Homo sapiens: one gene and its partners. The protein of the gene in region 1 interacts with the protein of each later gene in a pairwise test. Each region holds a gene or a part of one and is shown in the gene's direction. Other genes may lie near its edges. The genes, in order: SS18L1, CSTF2, MAPK1IP1L and NAF1.

Region 1 (7,033 bases):
AGGGTTCCTTCCAGAACGTTAAGTCTCTGAGCCTGTAAGGTTTTGCAGAATTGCCTCTGTGTATACGCTCACCTCAGTCATCCAGCTGGCTTTTCATACCCTAAGCTCACCGTTAGATCTGCACGCCTGGTTCTCACATTCATTCACTCTGCCAGTGTTTGTCACGTACTGGGTACGCGTCCGGTCTCTGCTGAGTGCTTGGTGTGTGGCCGCGACACGAACCCTGCACTTTTAGAGCTTATGTCTCGCTACAGAGACATAAGGTGGTCCCACAGGGCCAGACTGTGCTGAGGACAGAGCGGGGGGCCCCAAATGGAGCCCGCCTTCCAGATGGGGGCGCAGGCGACCGCATTTGGCCCGTGTGGGCAATTCCAGGACGAAGACACAGCGGGGAGTGGCTGGCAGCCCCAGGCTCAGCCTAGGGAGGGGGAAGCCCTTTCTGCCCAGGAACAGTGAGCAGGGCTTTGAAGGAGCTGAGGAAAGAGCAGCTTGGAAGATGGAAGAGCGGGAGCTCTCGGGACAGTGAGGAGGCCGGTGTGGCGGGAGGTGACAGGGACAGGTGGGCGTAGGGGCCTCCATAAAGCAGACATCGCTTTCCCTCTGAGTGGGATGGGGCCCCTGGAGGAGGACAGGGTCTGTGTGGTGGGAGCACTGCAGGAGCGAGGGCCTCCTAGAGGAGAATGAGCCAGGCAAGGGAAGAGGGCGTGCCAAGGTCCTGAGGCACCAGGAGGTTTGTCCCAGTGAAGGCAGCCTGAAGGAGGCTCGGTGGCTGGAGCACAGGGCATATGAAGGAGAATGGTCTGGGACATTTTTTGGAGCCTCCTTTGAGAGAGTCCTTAGCAGGAAGTGGCTCTGTGTTGGTGACTCTGAGGTGGCTGGAGGTGTTAGGGACACTTTACACTGCCAGTGAAATTTCAAAGCACTACATCGCTCAAGTTTGTTTTTCTCAGGGAATTGGGTAGGTAAGAGGCCAAAGACTGTTTTTTAAATGCTTCTCGTCCTCCTTCTTCAAGAGGGCAAAGGGTCACCAGGTAGATGTAGAGAAGCCTAAAGACCATGTAACACAGTCTCCCTGCCAGGGCACCGTACTCGGCCATGCCTGGGAAGGGCACGCTGATGAGGCATTTACACAGATGTCAGGAGGGCTCTGGTGTGCTCTCAGGACACTGTGAGGCCACTGTAGCCGACGCAGGGGCCGCCTCTCCCCAGTGTGTGCTGGGCGCTGGTCAGCGGGGAGCAGGCCCCAGCTTGGCCCTCCAGGTTTGCACAGGAGTGTCATGCTGGAGTCTGGAAGGACAGCAGTCTGCATCCTGATGTTAAATTAGAATTATATGTGAATGATTCTGATGAGACGCCATACCTCCTTCATACAGTCCTGAAAATAACTTATTTGGATTTTGTGAAATAAGTGAATGTCCTAACTTAATTATAAGACTGAACCAGAGGACATATAACTTTATACCTACCTATGAAAAGACCGTGACCGGTCGTGGTGGCCCATGCCTGTAATCCCAGCACTTTGGGAGGCCAAGGCAGGAGGATCACTAGAGCCCAGGAGTTTGAGACCAGCCAGGGTAACATAGCAAGACCTGTCTCTACAAAAAATAAAGTAGTCAGGCATGGTGGTGCATGCCTGTAATCCCAGCTACTTGGAAGGCTGAGGCACGAGGATCCCTTGAGCCCAGGAGGTCGAGGCTGTAGTGAGTCGTGATTGCACCATTACACTCCAGCCTGGGCTACAGAGAGCGAGACTTTGTCTTAAAAAAAGGAAAAAGAAAGGCCAGGCGTGGGGGCTTACACCTGTAATTCCAGCACTTTGGGAGGCTGAGGCGGGTAGATCACCTGCAGTCAGGAGTTGGAGAGCAGCCTGGCCAACATGGTGAAACCCCATCTCTGCTAAAAATACAAAAATTAGCCGGGTGCCTGTAAGCCCAGCTATTGGGGAAGCTGAGGTGGGAGAATCGCTTGAACCGGGAAGGCAGAGGTGAGTTGAGATCACGCCACTGCACCCCAGCCTGGGCGACAGAGAGACTCCATCTCAAAAAAAAGAAAAAGACACAGAGCAATGGGGAAGATAGAGAATAGAATTTCACATCTGGGGGGAAATGTGTCCATCTAACTGCAAAATATTAAGATAGCCTTTAGTCAGCATCCAGTGTAGCTGGCCGTGGCGCTTTGGCACAGCACTGCCGGCGCTGGGCGTCTCCTAGGGGCCATTGTGCACACTGTGTTATGTTTGCAGCACCCCTGGCCTCCACCACGATGCCAGTAGCACCCCCATTGCCCAGTCTGACAATTTAAAATGACTCCAGACATTGTCAGATGCCCCAGGGGCAAAACTGTCTCCGTTTGAGAACCACTGGGCTACACTTAAACATGTGCTGAGGCGGCCAGGCGCTGTGGCTCACGCCTATAGCACTTTGGAAAGCAGAGGCGGGCGGGAGCAGATAGAGACGGAGGTTGCAGTGAGCTGAGATCGCGCCATTGTATTCCAGCATGGGCAACAAGAGCGAAACTCTGTCTCAAAAAAAAAAAAAAGGTGCTGAGGCATTGGGGCTGCCAGTGGTTTTATAGGGCTCCAGGGCTGCCATGCCTTCAGCTGAGCAGCTCTGGATTTGAGGCTTTCCGTCTTACCCAATGGTGCAGGAGCAGAAAGACATCAGAACAGACTCCCACTAACTAGAATCATCACAGGCAGCTCTGGGAATGAGAATGTGACGTGTTCGGTCAGGCTGGAACAGCTTTCCTCCCTCCCCCACTTCCTCGCTGGGGGCATTCGGGAAATCTGATCATTAACTAGCTGGGGACACATGGAGAACAGGCATGCAGATGATGATCCGTTGTCTTCCCCTGTGGCAGTCTCCCGAGTGGCTTTCACCACAGGTCCGATGCTCCGTTTTGCTGCCCAAGGAATTCTGCCTTGTGGCCTTGTGGGGCACAGGCTCTCTAGTTTCTCTTCTTCATGTTGTTTTTTGTTGTTGTTTTTGAGATGGAGTCTTGCTCTGTTGCCCAGGCTGGAGTGCAGTGGCACGATCTCGCTCACTGCAGCCTCTGCCTCTCGGGTTCTAGCAATTCTCCTGCCTCAGCATCCGGAGTAGCTGGGATTACAAGCACGTACTATCACACCTGGCTAATTTTTGTATTTTTAGTAGAGACAGGGTTTCGCCATGTTGGCCAGGGTGGTCTCGAGCTCCTGACCTCAGGTGATCCTTCCAAAGTGCTGGGACTGTAATCCTACAGGCATGAGCCACTGTGCCTGGCCTTTTTTTTTTTTTTTTTTTTTAAGACAGGGTCTCACTCTGTCGCCCAGGCTGGAGTGCATTGGCAGGAACATGGCTCACCGCAGCCTCAACCTCCGGGGCATGCGCCACAACATGTGGCTTATTCTTTTTTTTTTTTTTTTTTTTTTTGAGACAAGGTCTCACTCTGTCACCCACACTGGAATACAGTGGCATGATCTCGGTTCACTGCAACCTCCACCTCTCAGGCCCAGTGATTCTCCTGCCTCAGCCTCCCAAGTAGCTGGGATTACAGGCACGTGCCACTACCACCTGGCTAATTTTTTTTTTTGTATTTTTAGTAGAGATGGGGTTTCACCATGTTGGCCAGGCTGGTCTTGAACTCCTGACCTCAAATGATCCACCCACCTCGGCCTCCCAAAGTGCTGGGATTGCAGGCGTGAGCCACTGTGCCTGGCCGAGGCTAATTTTTTCTCTTTTTTTGTAGAGATGGGGTCTTGCTGTACTGCCCAGGCTGGTCTCAAACTCCTGGGCTCAAGCAGTCCTCCTGCCTCGGCCTCCCAAATTCAGATTTGTTTTTGAAACAGGGTCTCACCCAGACTAGAGTGCAGTGGTGCAATCACGGCTCACTGCAGCCTTGACCTCCTGGGCTCAAGCGATCCTCCCACCTCACCCTCCAAGTATCTGGGACTATTGGCACACGCCACCACACCCAGCTAATATTTGGATTTTTGTAGAGATGGAGTCTGGCCATGTTGCCCAGCCTGGGTCTTTAGATTTTTTTTTATAGATTGAAACCCATCACCCTGGTCGTCCCCGCTCCCATTTTCTTACTGTAGCAGGCTCGGGGGCAGATGGTGTTTGCATTGGCTCCCAGTGGGGCCAGCTTGGAGGAGAGCCTTCCTGCATAGCAGGCCCAGCATAAGGCTCTGATGCCAGGCCTGGCACAGGCCCGGCCGCAGCGATGCCAGTGTGTGACTGAACAAATGAACCTTTGGCCCTGTCTACGTTGTTAGCCCCAGGCTTGGCCAGTGGCTTCTGGAAAGTCGTTCGCTGCCCCGCAGAGATGTGAGCAGAGGTTGTTTGCTTGCTGTTGTCCCTCCTACCCCCTGTCCGGGCTGGGGTGGACGTCTGTCTTCCTTTCACTCATTACTATAGGGGTGTAATCTGTGTCTTGATCTCTTTTAGGGCCAGTATGGAAATTACCAGCAGTAAGGGACACACATTCTGGCTGGAGCCCTTGTGGTAGCGTGTTCATCCAGGGGCCGGATGGGCTGGCGGCAGCTCTGGTGAATTGTGACATGTTGGTTACCTGTTCGCCCAGTGCCACGTCTGCATGTGAAGCGTGCTCATTTCATGCTGGGTATGACGCCGAGCGCACACCACTGGCGTGAGACAGCGCTTGGTGGTGTGATACTTTTGGTGCTGTGTATAGTATTGTATGTCGGTACACGGAGAGGTATCCTTTTTTTGTCCCCCGCCCCCTTCTCAATGTTTCTAGCTAGCTTTGGGGGTCATTTTGTCATCAGAGCATTCTGTGCCCAGGGACAGGACAGATCTCGAGGACACCACAGTCCACCTGTTCCCGTCAACAGACGTTAGGTCTCATTTTCCTCCTCATGCAGTGTTGTAGTGTGGGTTGTCAACTTTTCTTTAACTGGCTACGCCACAGCTGGACACACATGCAGCCCCTGGAGGGCAGCCTCTTCCTGTGCCTCGATGGGGTGGGTGGGAGGGCATCTTCTGTGCGTTGGGTCAGTTTCTGTTACGTAACGAAAAGGATAAACATCTCCCACGGGAGAGGCCACAGATGGCCACTTCCAGAGCTTGCCCATTGCCTGTCTCTCGCCAATTCCGTTTATCCAAAAAGGTACATGTTTTTGTATTAAAAAGTAAACAGGGATCAGTGACTGTATTCCAAATAAATATGAATCCCTAAGGGCCGTGGACAAATTGCCTAACCCAGGGCCAGCGGTATTGCTGAAGGAAAGGGGCAGCTCTCTGGGAAGTGGGCCCTCAGAGATTACTCTGGCTTTGACCCTTGTTTAGCTGATGGTCATTTCTGGGATTGGAATATTTAATAAGCCCAATTCTAAGTTGATAGGTAATTTTAAATATTCAAACCAAATCTTCCCAACAGTTGGCAAGTTGTTTATTTTATATTATTTCTTCCAGGACCTACTTGCTCAGATCTCCAAGCAAGCATTTCTTTTCTTTTAGGGATGTCTGAAAGTCACATCCAGTTACATTACTGTGTTCTTTCTAATGAAAAGTAAAGGTTTTATATAGAGAAACTTGAGTAATTTTTACATTTCTAAGACATTAAATCCCATTTAAATTCTGTGTGAACATTAAAGACAGCACACTTGCAAAAGTATGGTCAAAGGAAAAAAATCCCACATTTCAATTAACAAGTAGCATGGACATTTGATCAACCTTTAGTTGGAATAATAATATTCATATTTGCTATGAATCCTTTTAAAAAAATCTTTGGATAAATGCTGACAGATTTCCAAGAACTACCAAGAAAATACAAGAGATATCCAATGCTTGATATATGAGGCCTAGTAATAACGATATTTCTCTTTAATTGATGTTTTGTTTTAAAAGTTAAAAGTAATTCTTGGCGTGGTGGTTCACGCCTGTAATCCCAGCACTTTGGGAGGCCGAAGCGGGCGGATCACCTGAGGTCGGGAGTTCGAGACCAGCCTGACCAACATGGAGAAACCCCGTCCCTACTAAAAATACAAAATTAGCCAGGTATGGTGGTGCATACCTGTAATCCCAGCTACTCGGGAACCTGAGGCAGGAGAATGGCTTGAACCCAGGAGACAGAGGTTGTGGTGGGGCAAGATCGCACCATTGCACCCGAGCCTAGGCAACAAGAGTGAAATTCCGTCTCAAAAAAATAAATAAATAAATAAATAAATAAGTTAAAATTAATTCTTTATCCAGAGTCGGGTGCTTTAGAATTTATAAGTCACTTATGTGTTTTGCTTGAATTAATTCTGACAGCCCCTATGAGGAAATCTGGAGGCAGGTAACAGTTCCCATTTTAGAGATGAAGAACTGAGGCACAGATTAAAGGACTTGCCTGTGTTGAATACCAGTCCTGTTCTAGGACATTCTCCCCTCTCCTAGGAGACGGATGTCACGCACAAATGGGGAGAGAAGTGTTTATTTTGTAGGCACTAAGGGTTTCTAAAACCCTTAACACTGGTAAGGGCTCAAAAATAAACGTATGTGTTCATATTCGATCACCGAAATGAGAGTTCTTAATTGCTAATTGACAAACGCGTTAGCAATTTCAGTTAGGGAGTCATCTCCCTTGATTGTGTTCTTTTCCTGTCAATTTTCATAGACCTAATTTGCAAACTCAATCGGGGACTAAAATTTCCCACTGAAAATGTTAAACATTTTAGATAACTGTGAAGATAGTTTATTTTTATTCCTTGCCAATCTGGGAATATGCCTTTTTTGTGTGTTTGTGTGTTTTTTTAAGTGCTGTATTAATAATACTTTCTGAAAGAAAAGGACACTTACCCCAAAACTTCAATCTGAAATGTCTTACATTAAGAATATCTTGAATGTTGTGTATATATTTTAAAAAGCACTTTGCAAAATAGTTTGTACATTTATTTCCTAATTTATACATGATTTTTGGTGTTAATATATTTAATGATTAATAACAGAATGTTTATTTAATGTGCTGTCCATTTTTATGTAATATTATGGGGAAAGTGATGCCAGCAGTTCCTTTTCATTATTCTATCTTCTGTCATATGAATGTTGAG
Region 2 (4,663 bases), on another chromosome or scaffold:
CAAGGAGCAAGTATACAGGGTGGAAGCCAGCCTGGCGGCTTTAGTCCCGGGCAGAACCAAGTCACTCCACAGGATCATGAGAAGGTAAGCAACACTGTCTGACTGCCTCCTTATGCACAATTCTAGCCTTTTTGATTCCTCTTTTCACAGTTACCATGTGACGATCCTGGGTCTTCAAAGTCCCTTTGGAGGTGATGTTTATTCTAACTTAGAACTCTTTTATGATCTTGTTACCTGAAAATTTGTGAGTCTGGTCCTGAAGTTCCTAATGGATGTGAAGTTCTTAAGTGGATGTAAATGGCAGCTTATTTTATATTTCACACTCATCTGCCAATAGCAGGTTTTTCTTGTTCAGGCCAGATTGACCTGAAAATCCACACCCTTTTTCCTTCCCTTTCTACTTTATCCCTAAAAACAATAGTAGATTCCCCATGATTATATCTTTCTGTTTTTATATTTGACCATTGTGGGGAGCTTATGTCTGATGGAAAGGCTAAAATTTGTGAAAAAGAGAGACTTTCAAAACAGGATTAAAACTTGAAGGATTTCCAGGGCTCACAGATACCATCTTAGTCTCCAGGAACTTTGAGTTCATGAAGTTGTCTGTTTTGAATCGTCTAATCTTAGGTATTTTAATTTATACTTGTTCTTTTCATTGTACCTTTTCTCACCAGTTTTTTTTTATTTTTTATTTTTTTTGGAGGGGGGCTGTTGGTTTTTTTCTGTGTGAAATGTTCTTCCTTTTTCCATTTTGCTTCATATCCCACTACAGTAGCTTTTTGGACAGAAGCTGGTGGTGGGTTTTTTGTTTTGTTTTGTATTTTTTAGCTGCCATCATTAAAACTCACTACCTTTTTTTTTTCCTCTGCACAGGCTGCTTTGATTATGCAGGTTCTACAACTGACTGCAGACCAGATTGCCATGTTGCCTCCTGAGCAAAGGCAGAGTATCCTGATTTTAAAGGAACAAATACAGAAATCCACTGGAGCACCTTGATAGGTGAGCAAACTTAATCCCCATCTGAGTAGGACTAGCTCCTTGTCTATTCTGGGTATATACTTTTAACCTTAACCAACAAGATTGTTCTCTCAGCGGCCCTCAATCCACTCAGCTAGACTCTTCTTTACCCTTCAGTAGGTCAGCTCCTGTAGGGATAGAGTAAGGCTATACAATGTTTGTTCAGTTGTTGAATTGCTTATAATCTTTCCTAATGACAAAGGTAATGTATGATCAGTTTAACAAAAGTAATCATATACAGAAATGTAGAAGGTGAAAGGTAAAAAGCCCTGTTTCCTCAATCTCATTCCCCAGACAAAACCTCTAAATATAGTTTGGTGTGTATCCTTCTACAATCAATTGTATTATTTTATTCCAAACTGTCCTGTCAAAATGGAAAAATACAAAGCATTTCAATAAAATGTGTAAATATTTTGTTTCTTGTATTTATTTTATAGGGAATATTTTGATGTTGAACTATAGTAGCACATAATTTAAGGTAGTAAATGTCCGTCATCACCATCAGTTTCTATATATTTTGGAGATCGCTGTACCCTGCTACCCTTATTTTTCTTGCTCATCATTTAGGCAGAAAGAATCCAGGGGCCAAGCACAGTGGCTGAGCCCTGTAATCTCAGCTTTGGCAGGCTGAGGTGGAAGGATTACTTGAGACCAGGAGTTCAAGACCAGCCTAAGCAACATAGTGAGACCCCATCTTTACAAAAATTTTTTAAAAAATTAGCCAGGCATGGTGAGATGCGCCTATAGTTCCAGCTACTTGTGAGGCCGAGGTGGGAGGACTGGTTGAGTCCAGGAGGTCAGGGCTGCAGTAAGCCATGATTATGCCACTGCACTCTAGCCTGGGTCACAGAGTGAGACTCTGTGTCAAAAAAAAAAAAAAAAAAGGATCCAGGTAACCTGCTTCATAAATAATCATGTGACAACTTGATTACACATACATGTATCAGTGTTTCTTTTTTAAAAAAAATTTCCCCAGCATTTTGTATTTTATAAACAGTTCTTTTTTCTAAAAACAGTTTAAAATTCATGTTGCCCCACTATCAGGTAGGACAGCACAATTTAAATTTCTACTTTTTACCCCATCCATATTATAATTCCTATTCTTATGTTATATAATAGTGAACTCATTTAACTATTAATAATTACCACTCTTACAAAATATATCATTTTAATCCATACTTGTGATGTCTTTAAACATTTAAACTGCGACTATGCATCATATATGTATTTAGACCTTAAATGAATTAATGAGAAGCTATCATAGATAGAAGGCTCAGTAGACTTTTGGTACCTTAACGTTTTATTCCACAAACCCCACATATTCTTTTTTTTTAGTAAAAGTATAGACTACCTATTACATTCAGAGGAATAAATAAAAATTATTTCTTTTACTAATTTACTTAAGCCAGAGAAGGCATTCCCTACAATGTGAGAAAATTACTCCTTACTGTTTCTGGATAGTAGAGGTAGAAATGTTTCTGAAATTTCTTTCATTATAGTTTTGCTTATAGGATGTTTAATTTAAGGCCTTGCATATTAACCACAAGGCAAAGTTTTTGTCTATTTTTTTACCTTTTATTTTTAAATAATCATAGACTCAAGGAAAGTTGGAAAAATAGTACAAGGAGTCTCATGTACCCTTCACCCAGTGTAGTGCAAAACCAAGAAATTGACATTGGCACATTACTGTTAACTTGACTGCAAACTCAGTTTTCACCATTTTAAAAAAACTATCATGATTTGTGTATATGTATGTGTGGTTCTATGCAATTTTATGTGGGCAAGATTTTATTGTGTGTCTACTGGTGTTTGTGCATACCATGGCTAAAGTGTTGGGTTTTCCTCCATCCTATACCTAGCTAGTTGTGATCCATCTCTGCCATCATGGACAGGCTTCTATACTGTTGTCATTAGAGATGAATGGTTCTCAAACAAGGGCAGTTTTGCCCCCTAGGTGACATTGTCTTGAGACGTTTTTGGTCATCACAACTTTAGGGAGTATGGCATGCTACTGGCATTCAGTGGGTAGAGGCCAGAGATACTGCTAAACATCCCATAATGCACAGGATGGTCCCCCTCACCCACTTCCCAATAGCAACTAGTACTCCAGCCCAAAATGTCAGTAGTGCTGAGGTTGAGAAACCCTGCTGCAAGGGCTGATTGCTTTGAGGAGTCAGGAGGCAGGAGACAGATACTTTGCAAATCTGTCCTGGTGATTTGATTATATGCCTGTCCTCCCTCCCCTAGCCTTTTTATTTTTTTTCCTGAAGTTTTTCCGGAAGAGAGCTTTGTCTTCACTTCTAATGGCTTTGTCCTAACTTCTTCTTACAGGTTTTCAAAAATACCTGGCAAGAAATCTGGAAATTCTATAATTTTGTTGAAATATTGAAAAAAGATGACCTGCATCCTAACCCTTGAATGACTCAAATCAGTGCCAGGTGGAGGACTCCCATCACCTTCTCTCAGAACAAAATCACTTCATTTTATTGTCTTAGTTTGTATATTTTCTGTGACTTGAAATAAACTTTGAACACAATTTTAGTACACTGCAAATTGATACACATGACCTTTTTGCTTTTAAAAAGCTTAACACTAAGGGTGAAACCTTAGATGTGTTTTCTACCCTTACTGCAGTATTGTACTTTAACATATTGCCATAGTTTTGTTTTTAAGTTAACCACTTATTCTTCTTGATGATATTTGAGAATTTCTCAGAAGCAATGTTTTCTGGAACTTGGTTTTTGTTTAGTTTGCTTCCAGTAAGAATTATTATAAGGCTTTGCCCTCTGAAAATATTCTAGCACTTCGGAGTCTTCTAGGAGAAAATATCACATGCTTAGAGCTATAAAATGGTCAGAAGGCTAACAGAGCAAAGAGCCTAGCACAGCTGTGTGTTTAGTTTAGAAAAATCCAAATATCAAAATGCATTTGTTTCAATAGCAGGTCTGAACATGTATAATTCAGAGTTAAGACAAAAATTGTTTTAGCACTGGTTTGAGTGTGTCAGCAACACAAGAGACTGTTGACATTTACTTGTGTGTTCTTAAACTTATCAGTCTAGGCAGTCAACTTTGAAAGTTTAAAAAGCCACTGATTTTTCACATGCTCAAGATGAAATAAAAACAGAAATCAAATGAACAAAATACATTTCATCCTATCTTCCAGGCAGTCCCTAACCTGCAGCCCTACCCTGTAACTACGTTTATTCTGGGAACTTACAACACAGAAAACCCTAAAACTTGTACATTCTTCTCATTTTAAGTGGACCAAATGTAGAGCACAGTCAGATTGCTCATTAGGTCTGCTCCTGCCTGCTTCCTTGCGGATAGGTATGAACATAATTAGTGCCATTAGCTCTAATCTATGGGTCTTATTGCCTAGTATTTCTCTCTCTCGCCGCGCCGCCGCCTCCTCCTCTCCCCCCACCCCAACCCCATCTCTCTCGTAGTGGCATTAAGGAGGAACATGGTTTCTCTCTATCAGGCCAACCTCAAGAGGTTAAGAGTTGCCTTAATAATCAGTAAAGTTCTACTGGAACTACTTTTGAGCCAATTTATATTCTTGGAATTCTATCCCCTGGGTTAGGATTATGGTCAGGTGAATTAAAAGCCTGGCATAGGCTTAGAGAATGTAATAGCATATTGCT
Region 3 (7,637 bases), on another chromosome or scaffold:
TTGAACAAAGGGAAGATTTGAACAGTGTAAATTCCAGAGTTGAGAAAGCATTTAGCATGGTGGAAATGTGGAGAGCTTATTGGTGAGAGAGGATGGAGCTAAGAGAAATAAGATCAAATATTAAAATTAGGAATTTAGGCATTACCTCAGGGAAAAGCCTTGACAGTGAAAAGAAACTACTTAATCGCTAATAGCTAGTCTGGACCAGACACTTAACTGCGCTTTGGGAATCATCCTGGGCTAATCAGGAAATAAACTTGACTTTTCTATTTTTCTCTGAAGCTTTACAGGACATACTCCCACTCCCATTTTTTTCTAAGCCTACAGCATCTTGATTCATAGTATAATTCCTGAAGTATGCTGAATGGACTTTTTAAGGTTCCTTTAGCATTTTTGTATAGAGTTATATGTGATCTTTCTATAACCATGCCATTCACTTAAATAATTCATGAAGGGAATGGTTTAATTTAAAGGAAGACCTAATAGGAAGAAGATTAAAGGAAGCTTTTAGTCAGCCTGTGGCTAGATTTATTGATTTGGTGATCAAACCTGTGCTATTTCCTGAATTTCAGCTAATGGCCAACTGTGGTCAAAGAATGGCTTTCAGTTAAAGTTTTGACTTCTTATTATAAATAATATAAAGAATGTCTCAGTAATTAGAAATCCCTTAATAAGTAGAACAAATGTGGCAAGTAGGACTCCTATCGGTATACAAATTCCATTTCTTTTTATAAGAAAAACACATAAACCATTATCATTTATTCATGAGCCAAAGCCATTAAGAAGATAAATCCAGTTATCAGCTTCCTGTCTCTGAAGTTTGGATCATTTTATAGATCCACGCAATAGAGAGCTTCCTTCCTATGAAACAAAAACCTTGAGATCTCTTTTTTTTTGAGACAGAGTCTCGCTGTTGTCAGCCCAGGCTGGAGTGCAATGGCGCAATCTCGGTTCACTGCAACCTCTGCCTTCCAGGTTCCAGCAATTCTCCTACCTCAGCTCCCAAGTAGCTGAGATGACAGGCGTGTGCCACCACGCCCAGCTAATTTTTGTATTTTTAGTAGCGATGGTGTTTCACTACATTGGCCAGGCTGGTCTCGAACTCCTGACCTCAGGTGACCACCCGCCTCAGCCTCCCAAAGTGCTGGGATTACAGGCATGAGCCACTGTGCCCGGCCAAGATCTAACTCACGCTTACTTTTCATTAAAATATTTCTTGTCGCTTTTAGCTATTGTCAGAATCCAATAAACAGCTTACGCATTCATTTTGGTAAAGCAAATTTCACAGGAAAATAGACAAAATTATAAGAGATTCCTGGAGACAACACAAGGAAAACAATGTTTAAAAGCAAAATAGCCTGTGTAATGTTAGGTAATGTAATGCCCAAGTGAATAAAAGATTTTTCGTCAAGCAAACTACTGTTTCTACTTTGGGGGAAAAAAGTCAGTTTTACATTTGTAATTTAAGGAAAGAACAGAAAGCACAAAGGTTTTTCTTTTCTTTATTAATGGCCTACTAGAAATGAGCAGTGCAAGAGTCTACCTGTACTATTCTAATACAGTAAGATATTGGACACAAAATGGAGGTAACTTTTTAAAATAGATTGGCTTGGAAGTTGAAATGTAGATTAATGGATATAACCCAATAGAAAGGGATTTTCAAATAAAACCAAAGTCTATTTTTTTATTTACTTTCTAATTTTGAACAGATGACTCAGTCCTAAATCTTTGCCTTTATTTCCTATAAAATGTAGGTGATACTTGTAACTCGACTTCCTGGAGTTAATTCTTCAGCAAGAGGTGACCCTGGGAGCGTACTTTAAAATAATTGCTGTACAGCCATTGAGTACTAACATGATGATAGGTTTTCAAAATATCTTTGTAGTGGATGCTGCATAATTACATTCACTTCTCTTAGACTGTAAAAGACTTTCTTGACTTGTTTTAACAGTAGAGATAGCAGTACAATTTGAATTTATGGTTTAGGCTCTGCAATTAGAGGAACAATTGCAGTTTCCTCCTACCCTTCATATGGTCTGTGTAAAACTGATGTTTGCTTAACTTATTTTAAAAGTTGATTACGTTTTCAGAAAATAAAGATAATCACTTTTGCCATGGTTATAATCAAATCTAAGCTTTCAGACTTGAGAGCCATGGTGTAAAACTCAAGGAGGTTTATTTAAATTATGCTGACTTTGCTAGAATTGGATAAATTCTGTATAAGCCAAGTATGAGTTCACATGTACTCGAATATACAGTTTTCACAAAGCTATTACTCTCATCAGTCAGGCTTGTATGATCTATTCCTTACCACAAAAGAAGTAGACAATTGCCACTTTTATTTCTAATCCTTAAGTTGAATGTTTCTTCTTGGATGTAAGTTCAAATAAATTGATCTGGATAAATTTTCATTTCTACTTAATTAAAACTTCCTATGTAAAATCCAAAGGCTTTGTGTTTTATTTTAAAAACATAGTCTTTACTTCACACATTCAACTTAGAATCTGAAAAAGATAGAGAAACCCATATTCTTACATATTTTCTAATTTATAATACACTCCTTTTAGTTTTTTTGTGTTTGGGACTTCCAGAAGCAGGTGCCAAAATGTGATTAGAGGTGCAAGAGATTTATTTGGAGTGAAACACCTAGAAAGATAGAGAAGGGAGCAGAAGGTGGGGAATTCTTCATACCACACAGAAAGTCTGACACCTAGAAGGAAGGATTGGGTAGGGGAGCTTCGGACTTCAGTGCATCTTGAGACTGCTAGATGAGGACTTGGTTCCCAAGCAAAGGTTGCCTGTAGAGAAGCCCACAGGGACAGGAATGGCCTAGATCTAGACCCCTCCAACGTGCTCAGCTACTGGCTGATTGCAGGCAAGGAAAAGTTGGAGGCTATCCATTACTGGTACACAGCGCCAGGACTAGGGTATGGTGAGGCACTTAGGGACAAATATTTGACTATACGACTAAGGAAGACAATGTTTTGGTACAATATTGTAATATCTGAATTGATGCAAAAAAGCCTATGATGAGCAAGATACCAAATTTCAAATCAAACCTGACCAGATTACTGATTTCTTGTTGCTTCAGGTTTCAGCATGGCTCAAGGCACTGCTGATTCACTGTCACCAGTGAGAACAGGCTAGGTCCACACCAGTCGTGTAATTTTCCATAGGCCTGTGTGCCCTTACCCAAAAATAAGACTCTCGGCTTAGGTATTTGAAGTTCCTCTGTTGCCCCTTTTTCAGTGTGAGAATTGTGTGTGCTGTGGAAAACATCCAGGGATGTCTTCCTTTAAACAAGTTCATGGTTAAATGGCCACCCACTCACTCACTAATGCCTTACACAAAGCAAGATGCAAGTGTACCACATACTTTTAGGATATTTTTATATCTTAAAAAATGTATATTGGCCGGGCACAGTGGCTCACGCCTGTAATCCCAGCACTTTGCCGAGGAGGGCGGATCACAAGATCAAGAGATCGAGACCATCCTGGCCAACGTGGTGAAACCTCGTCTCTAAATACAAAAATTAGCTGGGCAAGGTAGCGCGCGCCTGTAGTTCCGGCTACTTGGGAGGCTGAGGCAGGAGAATCGCTTGAACCCGGGAGGCGGAGGTTGCAGTGAGCCGAGATCGCACCGCGCCACTGCACTCCAGCCTGGCGACAGAGCAAGACTCCGTCTCAAAAAAAAAAAAAAAGTATATTGCATATATGTATATATTTTGCACACCATATAATTATCACGACATCTTTATTGCTAGTTAGTAGGTTCCTTGACTGGGGTCATGTCATCTGTGCCTGACACAGGAGGTAATGTTTATTCAGAAATGAAGATGGCGGCTGGGCACGGTGGCTCACACCTGTAATACCAGCTCTTTGGGAGGCCGAAGCGGGCAGATCGCTTGAGGCTAGCAGGGTGAGACCCCATCTCTATCAAAAACACAAAAATAAGCCGGATGTGGTGGCACATGCCTGCAGTCTCAGCTACTCGGAGGCTAAGATGGGAGGATTGCTTGAGACCAGCAGGCAGAGGTTGCAGTGAGCCGAGATCGCGCCACTGCACTCCAGCGTGTGTGACAGAGGCCCTGTCTCAAAAACAACAAAAAAGAACATGGGAGAAGAGGCATTGATGAGGAAAAATCTACAAAGAAAGCAAATATCAATTTGTCAAGCTATTTGCAAACGTCTTCCCTTTCCTGTATTAATATTTTCCCTCTCCCCACTTTTGGCCCGAGGATCTGAGTCCTCGGGTCAGGCCGAAATCAGACCGCGTCCATACCCAGCCTCCTTCGAGGCCTAGCTGTAAAAACCGCTGAGCAAAAGGAATCCAGAATCAGCCCTCAAGCAACTCAAGACAAGTTAGCAATTTCCGCCGGGAAGCCGTGAACATCGGCAGCCACTGGCGTTTCCTCCGAGTCCTCGGAACTCCGGAAACTCTGGGAGCTTTTAGCCCGCCCACCAGGGGAAAGCGGCCCGGAGCCGGCGCCAGGTGGAGCCCATCCCCCTAGGCCTGGCGGGCCGCAGTACCGCCAGGGGCCTGCGGGAGGCGCACGCGGCGCGGCCTGAGGGGAGGGGGAGAACGGGCGGAGGCGGTGCGCTCGGCGCTTCCTGTTCCGGCGCCAGGAGGAGCCGCGCGCTGCTGGTGCTGTTGCCGCCGCTGCTCTAGCTGCCGTCAGTCAGGCTGCGCCCGCGTCTTCAGGGCCCAGTCCCTCGGACCCATCGCCGCTTCTAGACCCTACTGCGGTCTCGGATATTGCCGGGTGAGGCTGCTTCGGTACTAGTGGGAGTCGTGAAGGGGAATCGGGGAGCTGGGGTTGCGGAGCCCGCGGGCGCGGCCAAGCGGGAAGCGGGCGCGGTGACCGAGGTGCATCGAGTCACGTCCAGTGCTCGGGCCGTGGTCGCCTGCCTGGCACCAGGACTAAGCGTTTCTATCGGTCGCCTTCCTCCACGCTGCGGGCTGCCTGGGGATCGCCCCCCAGGGAGAAGGTGTCGGAGGCCGCTGACGTCGCGCCCGACGGGTTTCTGGGCGCCTGACGTCAGGTCTGGCTGCGGGGCGGGGCGGGCGCGGGCCGGCCCCTCCCCCACCCCTTCCCGGCGGGCGCGACCCGCTAGGAGGCCGGTTCGCTCCGGTTGATCCCGGACTCCCTTTGTTCGTGCGTCCCTAAACGGCTGCCGGCCTCGCGCCCCTTGGCCCCGATTTCCCCTCTACCCCCACCCTATTACACTCATTCATTAATTTTTAATAAAAAGGGAAAGGCCTGAAAAGATTCTTACAAGAGTCTCGGGCGCTTGTTAATCCGCAGTGTGACAACGTTCTGGTTATGACTTACTAGAGGAATTGCTCACGGATACATTAGATGAATACCCAGGGCAAACCACGAGAAGGGCAGAATTCAGTGATCTCCTTTTTTAGGACTGAGGAGCACATACCTGCGATAGCGTATGCATAGCTGGACCGTTTTCCTCTTTACCTTGAAAAGCAAGAGTACAGCTTTTAATAGGTAAAGATTCCAGTGTTAAAGCATGAAGCCAGGCTCACTCGACCGCAAGAATTTTTTTTAGTTTTACTACTAGAGAAATACACACCTGGGGGTTGTAAAGGTCTGTTTCGAAAAGGAACCCTCATTACAGGCAAAGGTAGCCTTCAGAAACATTTCATAAGTTCTTTGTTCACTGGTGTTCTTTGGGGGAAGAATAGAAATTTTTCATGCTGGCATCTCTGAGCCCACAATGCAAAGCGAGTTTGCTTCAGAAACTTGGAGTGAATTGCAAATATTGGAATGTTCTTTTCCTCACTCCAGGCGGAATGGGTAAAATCCATCCCCAGTCTCTTAACTGAAACTTTTGAAGCTAGTGTGTTTTGAATTCAAAAATACTTGGATTTTATCTTCATCTTTTTAGAAAGTCATGTTAGACGAGAGATAACACCCCCAGCAGAGTGGGGCACCCCATAATCCAACATTAATATTTGCAGCAATAGATGTGAACATTCATTCTAAGTGGGGGCGAATAGAAACTATAAATAGCTTCAGGTCACATTTTGCCACCATGTAAGTTTTGTGCCAAACTAGGGCAGATAAAGATTTATGGACCTAAAAGTAGGCATCATAAAAGCTAATATTTGTTGAGGTTTTGCTATATTCCAGGCAGCGACTAAGAGATTTGTTTATTAAAAGTTTTACAGCAAATCTATGATGTGGGTACGATTCCGATCTTCCTTTGCCTCAAGTTTGGAGAGTTGGACTTGTCAACTCTGGCCGAACCAACCAGTGAAGAGCTGCAGTTATAGCTAGATAATCATACTTTAACGTTTACTTTTTTACCTATAAGCTAGATGTCCACATACAAAGAAAAGAGAATTTGGTATTTGTTTTCCACCCAAGCACTATTTTTTTAGGCACTTGATTGGACAGAGTCCCATTTAGTTCCTCGCAACATTACTGGCCTGGTTTTTATTTGTTTTGTTTTTTAAACTGCGTGCTTTTTACAAATAGTATGGCCTGTTCTTTATAGTTCGGGTTCATTCAGATGAGCCGACTTTTAGTGAAATAATTCAAACCCTCGTCTAAGGTCACTCTGCTAAGACTTTAATACAACCCTTCCCTTTCTCGCTATATTCTAACCCATCTGAACTGCTTATACCTCCCCAGAGATTCTCCCAGTTTTTACACTAACTGCTCTTCTTTCCCTAGGGCCCATTTCACCGCCCTCTACTCCCGGCTCTTTCCTTATGGTCCTTATGGACTGCAAAAGACAGCACATCTCAGGAATCTCCATGTAATACTATAATTTCTCTAAAGGCCAACACATTGTTTGGCATATATGTTCCAATAAGTATATAACTAAATGCCAAGAAATATTGCAGGTTGCATATCCTTTATCCCAAATGCTTGGGACCAGAAGTGTTTCAGATTTTGGATTTTTTTTACATTACACCAGTTGAGCATCCAAAATCCAGAATGCTCTAATGAGCATTTCCTTTGAGCGGCATGGTGGCACTCAAAAAGATTCAGATTTTTGAGCATTTCAAAACCCCCGTTTTTGAGTTGCCCAAATGTAAAAAATGGAACATAAGCAGATAAATGAGCCAATACTAAAAACTAGCATGTATTCTAATTTATAATTTATATTTTCTTTTTTTTTTTTTTTTTTGGAGACGGAGTCGCTTACTGTAAGCTCCGCCTCCCAGGTTCCAGCGATTCTCCTGCCTCAGCCTATCGAAGCGAAGTAGCTGGGATTACAGGTGCCTTCCACCACGCCCAGCTAATTTTCTGTATTTTTAGTTGAGATAGGGTTTTACCATTGGCCAGGCTGGTCTTGAATTCCTGGCCTCAAGTAATCCACCCACCTCGGCCTCCCAAAGTGCTGCGATTACAGGCTTGAGCCGCCGCACCCGGCCATTAATTTATATTTTCAGTACGATACATATCATCCCCCCATACTAAACAAATCAACCCAAAAATTTTGATTTCGCTTAATTTCGCCTAACAAATATCTAACATGTATATAGCACTTTATAGATTAAGTGTGTTACTATTTTCTGTGCAGTGGGCAGGAATTATAACTTCTACAGATGGAAAATGGTCTCTTATTGAGAAGTTTTTTGTCAAAAGATAACCGTCAAAAGGATTCATG
Region 4 (7,033 bases), on another chromosome or scaffold:
ACCAAGAAGGGATATGGGTGCCTCCTATGGAGCTGTATGAGGAGAAGTGGGCCGGCCTGAGCCTTGCTGTGTCTTAAGTTGCTCTTTACAGTTTAGCTCTCAGGTGTTAGTCAATCTAAACTCTACACTCAGAGGCTAATGGTTATTTAAAATATTGTTAAATTCCTCTTTTCTACTCTGGATTAGCCAAATTGCTTATGTGAACTTGGTCAAGTTTTCCTGTAACATACCTATTAGTATTGGCTCATGCCACATACTGTCTATTGTATGGCTTCCTGTTATCTACTGCCTGTGATGTTGTTTTACTTAAAACTTTATAATGATTTCATTATAGTTGTGGCTCATAAACACTTCAGAACCTAGGAACAGTCAACTAAAATACTATGCTTTGCTTTTGTCCAAGAATTTTGAATGTCACTTATATTTTAGTTCAAACCATACTGCACAGACCTGAAGTTGGCAAGGAATTTTTCCACTGAAATTGTTTTTCACACTTAGGAAATGGATTCATGCTATCTAGGAAACAAATCCCTGGGAAACAGTCTGTGTACCAGGTTGCAAACGATGATTATTTTACCTTGTATTAATGGATACACAGGAAACTTAAAAGATATTTTTAAATCTCTGACCAAATGAAGAATTGGGTTTGTGTATATGTGAGAGAATTAAACTTGTGAATTGTTTTTAAGACAATTTTAAGTGAAAGTAAGACTACAATAATATATGTCATGTAGGCCAGTAAGAGTGGTGCTGAGTGCACCTCTTCTGTCCTTCACAGTTCTTACTGGACGAGGTCTACTGGATTTATCTAAACCTTTTCAAAGCAGATGTCTTGCTATTTTCTTAAAGTTTTTTGCTTTTACACTTTTTTAAAGCTTTAAATTTGTGATGCTATTAGTGTTATTTCATAATACATTGGCATTTTAATAGTTTTTAATGTCACTACTTCTTTTTAGAGTACACATATCTTCAGAATGGTGGTGCCCTGATAGGTGAGCTGTTTTACGCCTTAATGAAAATTAATGAAAGATTCAGTGCTGTACTGAAATCATAAAATGTGAAGAGCATTTACTATCAAAAATCAAGAACTGAGGATGTGATAAAACAGCCATGTTCAATGCAGTTGGTATAAATTGGTCCAAGCTATTTAGAAAGCTATTTAGTAATTTCCATTAAAACTTTTATGCCTTAGTGTTAATTATCGTACTTTCAGCTTCAATACCTCCACTCCTTACAAATCAATTTTTAGGAAGTCTGAAGTATAGTGATTTATATATGTTTATCATGGCATCATGTATTATGTTGAACAAATTGGAAGCTGCCTAAATGTCCTACAATAAGAAAGAAGTTAAGTAAGTTGTCCTGAGTCTGTAAAGGGGTGTTTTATGATAGCTAAAATTATACTTACAAAGAATATAACATGGAACAACTTTAGGTTTTTAAAAGGGGGCAGTATACAAAACTACAGTATGGTCTTAAAGAAAAAAATAACGTATTATAGAAAAAAGACTGGAAAAATCTATACTGGCATTGATCATGGTCTTATCTCTATAATATACATATATTATCTCGCTTTTGTCCCCCAGGCTGTAGTGCGATGGCACAATCTCGGTTCACTGCAACCTCTGCCTCCTGGGTTGAAGTGATTCTCTTGCCTCAGCCCCTGAGTGGCTGGGATTACAGGTGCCTGCCACCACACCCGGCTAATTTTTGTATTTTTAGTAGAGACAGAGTTTCACTATGTTGGCCAGGCTGGTCTTGAACCCCTGACCTCAGGTGATCCGCCCGCCTCACCTCCTAAAGTGCTGGGATTACAGGCGTGAGCCACTGCGCCCAGCCAGAAAATATATTTTTTAATTCACGTATTTTGAGAAGAAAGTACAATTTGAAACCAAGAAGTTTCCTTTCATTATTCTTAAAACGTTTTCAGAAGTAAAATATGTGGTTCTGCTAAAAGCAGTTCTTTTAGTTAAATGTTAAAGGCTGCACCATCTTTGTGTTTTTTAAACATAAATAACTTCTACTTTATTAGTTGTTAAATTAGAAAAAGTCTGTAATTTTACAAAATTCCTAACACTGTGGAAACAGCAAAAGTGATTTAACTCCTATTGAAGTCAGAAGCTTGCTTTTATATTTCCCATCTGATGATTCCAAATGTATACAGTTTTCTCAAAAGTTACCAATTATAATCCTTTTCTGTGTACTTTACAAGTTAAATGAGCAATAATTTAAAAAAATCATAATTTGCATCGAGTTGGTACCATCAAAATGATTTGAATTTGGTGAGGAACAAACTTGTTACTATTGTTTCACATTCATAGAAGGGAAATCTGGAATGAGCGAGTGCATTTTAATCAATATATGAAGACTGAATATGTAAAAATGACATAAATATAACTAAAAAATTATTTTATTGCCCTAACACTGACAAAATTACCTTGTTCTGGCAATTATCAGTGGGATTTTTAAAAGAAAACACTGCTGACTTTTCAAATAGTTATTTTACATGTTAAAAGAGGCCTTTATGTTTCTATTACAGATATTCGAGATATTTGGACCTGTTGCACATCCATTTTATGTGTTACGGTTTAATTCTTCAGATCACATTGAGAGTAAAGGTATTAAAATAAAGGAGACTATGTATTTTGCTCCATCAATGAAAGATTTCACTCAATATATATTCACAGAAAAACTAAAACAGTAAGTACTTTACCGGCATGTTGTTCTTCACTTACCTAACGTTTATATTTTAAGAATAATTCTCAGTGATGTAATTTCTTACAGTTATATTGTGTGTGTCTTGCAAAGAGTTCATTTATCTTCCTAATAATATCTTTGAAGCCTACAATTTATTTTCAGATTTTGTACGTAGAATTCATATCTTTTGTAAAAAATGAGATGATCAGCCATTAAGAGCACATTTGAGCCATGTACACTTTCTGATTCTAGTTCAGTGTTTTTTCCATTATGTACATTCTTTAATGTACTTACTATTTTAGTATTAGTACTAATATTATTATCATTTCTTAATAACTTTTTTTTCAGTTAAGTAAAATTCTCTTTGGATTCTATTTAGGGGCCTTGCTCTTCAATAAAACTTTAAAATAGTTTTCAAGAGAAAAAAAATGAGTGTTATCTCTTTATTTTGCTTATAAATTTTAAGTTTGTAGAAGAGACAACTAACACGTGTCCCTGAAAAATTGTGTAGAAAGTTACGGTGTATGGAGTTGACCTAACCAACAAACCAGTGCTCTCCATTTTGTCTATCAATAATGCTAAGTGATTTCTGTGGCATGTGACCGCAATATTTTTTTATATTTGTGCTCCCATTGGTTGAATATTTTTCAAATGTTAGCTGTTGCCAGCTGTTAGTTGTAGAGCTGTTTGTATCAGCTAAACTTGTTATAATTATGTTATTTAATTTTTTATATCAGCAAATAGCATATGAATTTAAGATTTTTTTTTAATAAAAATAACTTGAATGCTTTCGAATGATGTAATGAATATGAGCCACTAAAAATATTTTCAAATTGGGAGTGGAAGAAAAGACTGCCAAAGACTGGGGGAAGGTTAAATCCAGAAAGACTTTGCACTCAGTTTGACACAGAAGTTCCTTTTAGTTCTAGCTCTTCTTTTATTGGAGACTTAAAACCTAGGCGATACATTTTTATAGATGTTGTTTTTGCAGGAAAACAAAGGAACTTTGGTCACTGAGTAACTTTGGTATTATGTCAAAGGTACCAACCCCAGTTGCATGGCATAAGAAGATTACTTATACCACTTACATGTTAAATCAAGTCTCAAGTCACCAAATTTCATTTATTTCAGAGATGAAAATTTTGATCCTGATAATTGATTTAACTCATGTTTAAGAATCTACATAAAGATCTGGAGGAATATTTTGCCTAAGTTATTCTTCACATTGCATAAGGTTATTTTCTTAAATAACACTGACAAGAAAGATGAATTAAATACACATAAAGTCTTCAAGATATTAATATGTTCTAAAATGCTTTAAATATTTAGCATTTCATCCTGCTTTGAATATAAAGATACTGCTGTGGATATGCCATATATTTAGCTTTTTAACAAATAGAGTATTTTAGCTTAAAACAGATAAATTTGAAGAGGTTTTCTGAAGATGGTTTTTAAATAGATTTTAGATAATAGACTCAGTCTTTGGTTTTGATTTGCAGTTCTTCTATTAAGAAGCAGTAGTAAATCAGTGAATTGGGAAATTAGACCTATATTGCAGAAACCTCCCTCTCCCAGGAAAACTGTTGTATTCTAGACCTCATTTTGGCATCTGTCATGGGAACTTGGTGGAGTACTTTGTCTTTGAGGTAGAGAAGTTCAGCTCCTTTCCAGCTTACTGTTCTCTAATGAGGCTATTTTGATCTTAGTTTCTCATGTACTTACTGTCTTGTTAAAAGTGCCTTTTGAAATGTTGCTTGATCTTTCCTTTAGTAGATTTTGATTTTTTGTAATAGACGCACTAGTTGGGGAATTTTTCCCATTTATGTCTGTGATTCCAGGCTAACAGCAGTCCAGATCATGAGATGTCATATGTGCAGAAAGGAATACCAGAGATATATTTAAGGCCCATGTGTGAAATGACAATTGAGGAAATGCTTTTTTCTTTTAAGTGATGGAAAAGCCATTGATAATGGCTCATATATAATGTCAAAGTTCCGAATCAAAAATTTAAAGCAAACTTAATAACTTTCATGTTGTGCCAGCAAACTGACATCTGTACATTGATTTTAATGGCCTTAATTCCTGGGAATCTCATTTATTTTTGAGATCTAGTTTAAAACAATAAGGACATCTAGTCCTAATACTTTGTAATATTTTACTTTGTGATATTTTAACATAATGGAATAACAAAATAGTAGCTGAAACTATGAAATTAACAAAATTAAAAAGATTAAAAATGAGCTTTCACAAATTATACTGCTCATAATAGATATCTGTACTTTTGTTGGATGTAAAGTGTAAAACTCTCCACCAAAAGTTGTTGATTTTCAGCTGCAATTACACATTTCACACATGCCAGTCATTATATTGTCCTTCAGAATCTTTAAAGCAGCTTCTCTTCCTCTTCCTCCAACTATTCATAGTTAGCCTTTGTTTGACCCTCACTGCTTTGAGAATCAGTGTTGGAATAAGCCTTGGTTACTCATAGAGGATTGCTGACATTCCTCAGGTAAACTGAGGAGAAAATAATTCATATTGATATCTCTGCCATTAAACCTGTAAAATCTGTGAAAAGGGAATGCCTCATAGTCATTTTTATGTCCTTCGCACATGGAACAACTTCTGATCTACAGTTGGCGTGAAATAAGCATTTTTTTTAAACTGAGTTTTGTGAAAACTGCAAATATTATGAAAACAAAAATCAAAAGAGCTGTCCATCTGCTTTCCACTGCACACCATAGCCTTGGCTTCTCATTCCAGTTCCCTAATCCTAATATTTCTACTTGCTCAACTTTTGTGTTTTTCTTAGGAGCTTCCCACATCTTTTGAAATAAGGTAAAAGACACATAACTGTATTGCAAAATTAAAGGTTGAACTCATGTCCTTTACTTTATTATTTTCTGTACTTTTAAGTTATGAGCACTTAATAGAATTGTGATGAATACTTTTTTGACTCCCATCCCCACCCCACTCAGGGATAAGGGATCAGATGCATCATGGAAGAATGATCAGGAACCACCACCAGAGGTAAGTATAAGTCTTTTTATGCAACATTTTATAAAGTAGGGCAGGACTTAATCTTATAAATTTTATCATTCTTGCTGTTAGGGAAGTCATTAATACTGGCTAGCAGCCATACTGCCTTATCCTGTCCTAGCGCATGTATTCTCTCACCGTCCTAGATGACTATTTCATACCTTTCAGTGAAAGGTTTTGATTGATCATTTAGGAAAAAAACTTTTTTCAGTTACATTTAGTTGTATTTTAATAATTATCACCTTATCATTTACATTGTAGTTTACTATTTTTGTCAACTTTGTTGATGTCTGATAAAGGCAGGCTGTCATTATTTTTTAAAAATTTAATTGAGTTTAGTAAATACACCATATGGGACATGAAGACATGGTGCTTTTAATAGCTGTCCTTCTTTTGGAAGTACAGAATCATTGGAAGCACAAGATCATTGGAAGCTACCTACCTCTCTACTTTTTACGATATAACTACCTTTCTAAAAAGAGACCTTGATTTTCTTTTTGTATCTATGTCAGCAAAACAATAGTTTTATGCCCCAAGGTGACTTGATAATCTAGTCTTCCTAGAGATGTGAAGTAAATTTAGGAATAATATGTAAATAAGTTAATGATTTAATAGGATTACTTGGTTAACATTCCATGAAAGTGTTTAAGCAGATTATCTTGAGGGGTTTTTTTTTTGAATTACAACAATGAATATATTCATTTCTTAAAAATAGCATGTATTTATACAGTATAAAATAAAAATGTATATAAATATTTTTATAAGTAAAAATTATACATGAGAGTTTTTAAAGCTTGCTCAGCAGTTCTTATGAAGTTTTCTCAGTATTACAGTTTTTTTTTTGTTTTTTTTTTTTTTAACAAATATAGACATGGGGGTCTCAGTGTGTTGCCCAGGCTGGTCTCAAGCTCTTGGCCTCAAGTGATTCTCCAGCCCTCAAGCAAGCTTCTGCCTTGGCTCCCCAAAGTGCTGGGATTACAGGCATGAGCCCCTTGCCCAGCCAGTATTACAGATTTTTGATACTTACCGATTTAACCTTGGCCATTTTAGATGTTTAAAGCAATCGTAAATCATGATCTGTGTTTCTAATTTTACTGAGGTATGAATCAGGTTTATGCCCACTTGGAGGGTTCTATACAGGTATGAATCACTTAACCAGTGAATGATCCTTGCTTAGTATCTGAATTGAAATGGAATTATGTTTTCTAATTAATGTTATGTATTTATGTGATTTCAGTTAAGGCTCTGAATATTCACTTAATGTTCTGAATTAAGTTTTAGAGTATCTATAGCATCTTAT

What was found.
Region 2: the proteins of SS18L1 (region 1) and CSTF2 interact in binary tests that used the Homo sapiens proteins (3 or more experiments, as listed by UniProt).
Region 3: the proteins of SS18L1 (region 1) and MAPK1IP1L interact in binary tests that used the Homo sapiens proteins (3 or more experiments, as listed by UniProt).
Region 4: the proteins of SS18L1 (region 1) and NAF1 interact in binary tests that used the Homo sapiens proteins (3 or more experiments, as listed by UniProt).

Annotation. Positions count from the first base shown.
Region 1 is NC_000020.11:62,174,755-62,181,787, forward strand, and holds part of SS18L1 (calcium-responsive transactivator), read left to right. Parts: exon of another isoform or gene 1-1,564; intron 1,565-4,427; coding exon 4,428-4,454; 3' UTR 4,455-7,033. UniProt on the Homo sapiens protein: Transcriptional activator which is required for calcium-dependent dendritic growth and branching in cortical neurons. Recruits CREB-binding protein (CREBBP) to nuclear bodies.
Region 2 is NC_000023.11:100,837,366-100,842,028, forward strand, and holds the end of CSTF2 (cleavage stimulation factor subunit 2), read left to right. Parts: coding exon 1-84; intron 85-873; coding exon 874-996; 3' UTR 997-999; intron 1,000-3,348; 3' UTR 3,349-4,155; downstream 4,156-4,663. UniProt on the Homo sapiens protein: One of the multiple factors required for polyadenylation and 3'-end cleavage of mammalian pre-mRNAs. This subunit is directly involved in the binding to pre-mRNAs.
Region 3 is NC_000014.9:55,047,042-55,054,678, forward strand, and holds the start of MAPK1IP1L (MAPK-interacting and spindle-stabilizing protein-like), read left to right. Parts: upstream 1-4,605; 5' UTR 4,606-4,762; intron 4,763-7,637.
Region 4 is NC_000004.12:163,135,890-163,142,922, reverse strand, and holds part of NAF1 (H/ACA ribonucleoprotein complex non-core subunit NAF1), read left to right. Parts: intron 1-2,539; coding exon 2,540-2,700; intron 2,701-5,672; coding exon 5,673-5,724; intron 5,725-7,033. UniProt on the Homo sapiens protein: RNA-binding protein required for the maturation of box H/ACA snoRNPs complex and ribosome biogenesis.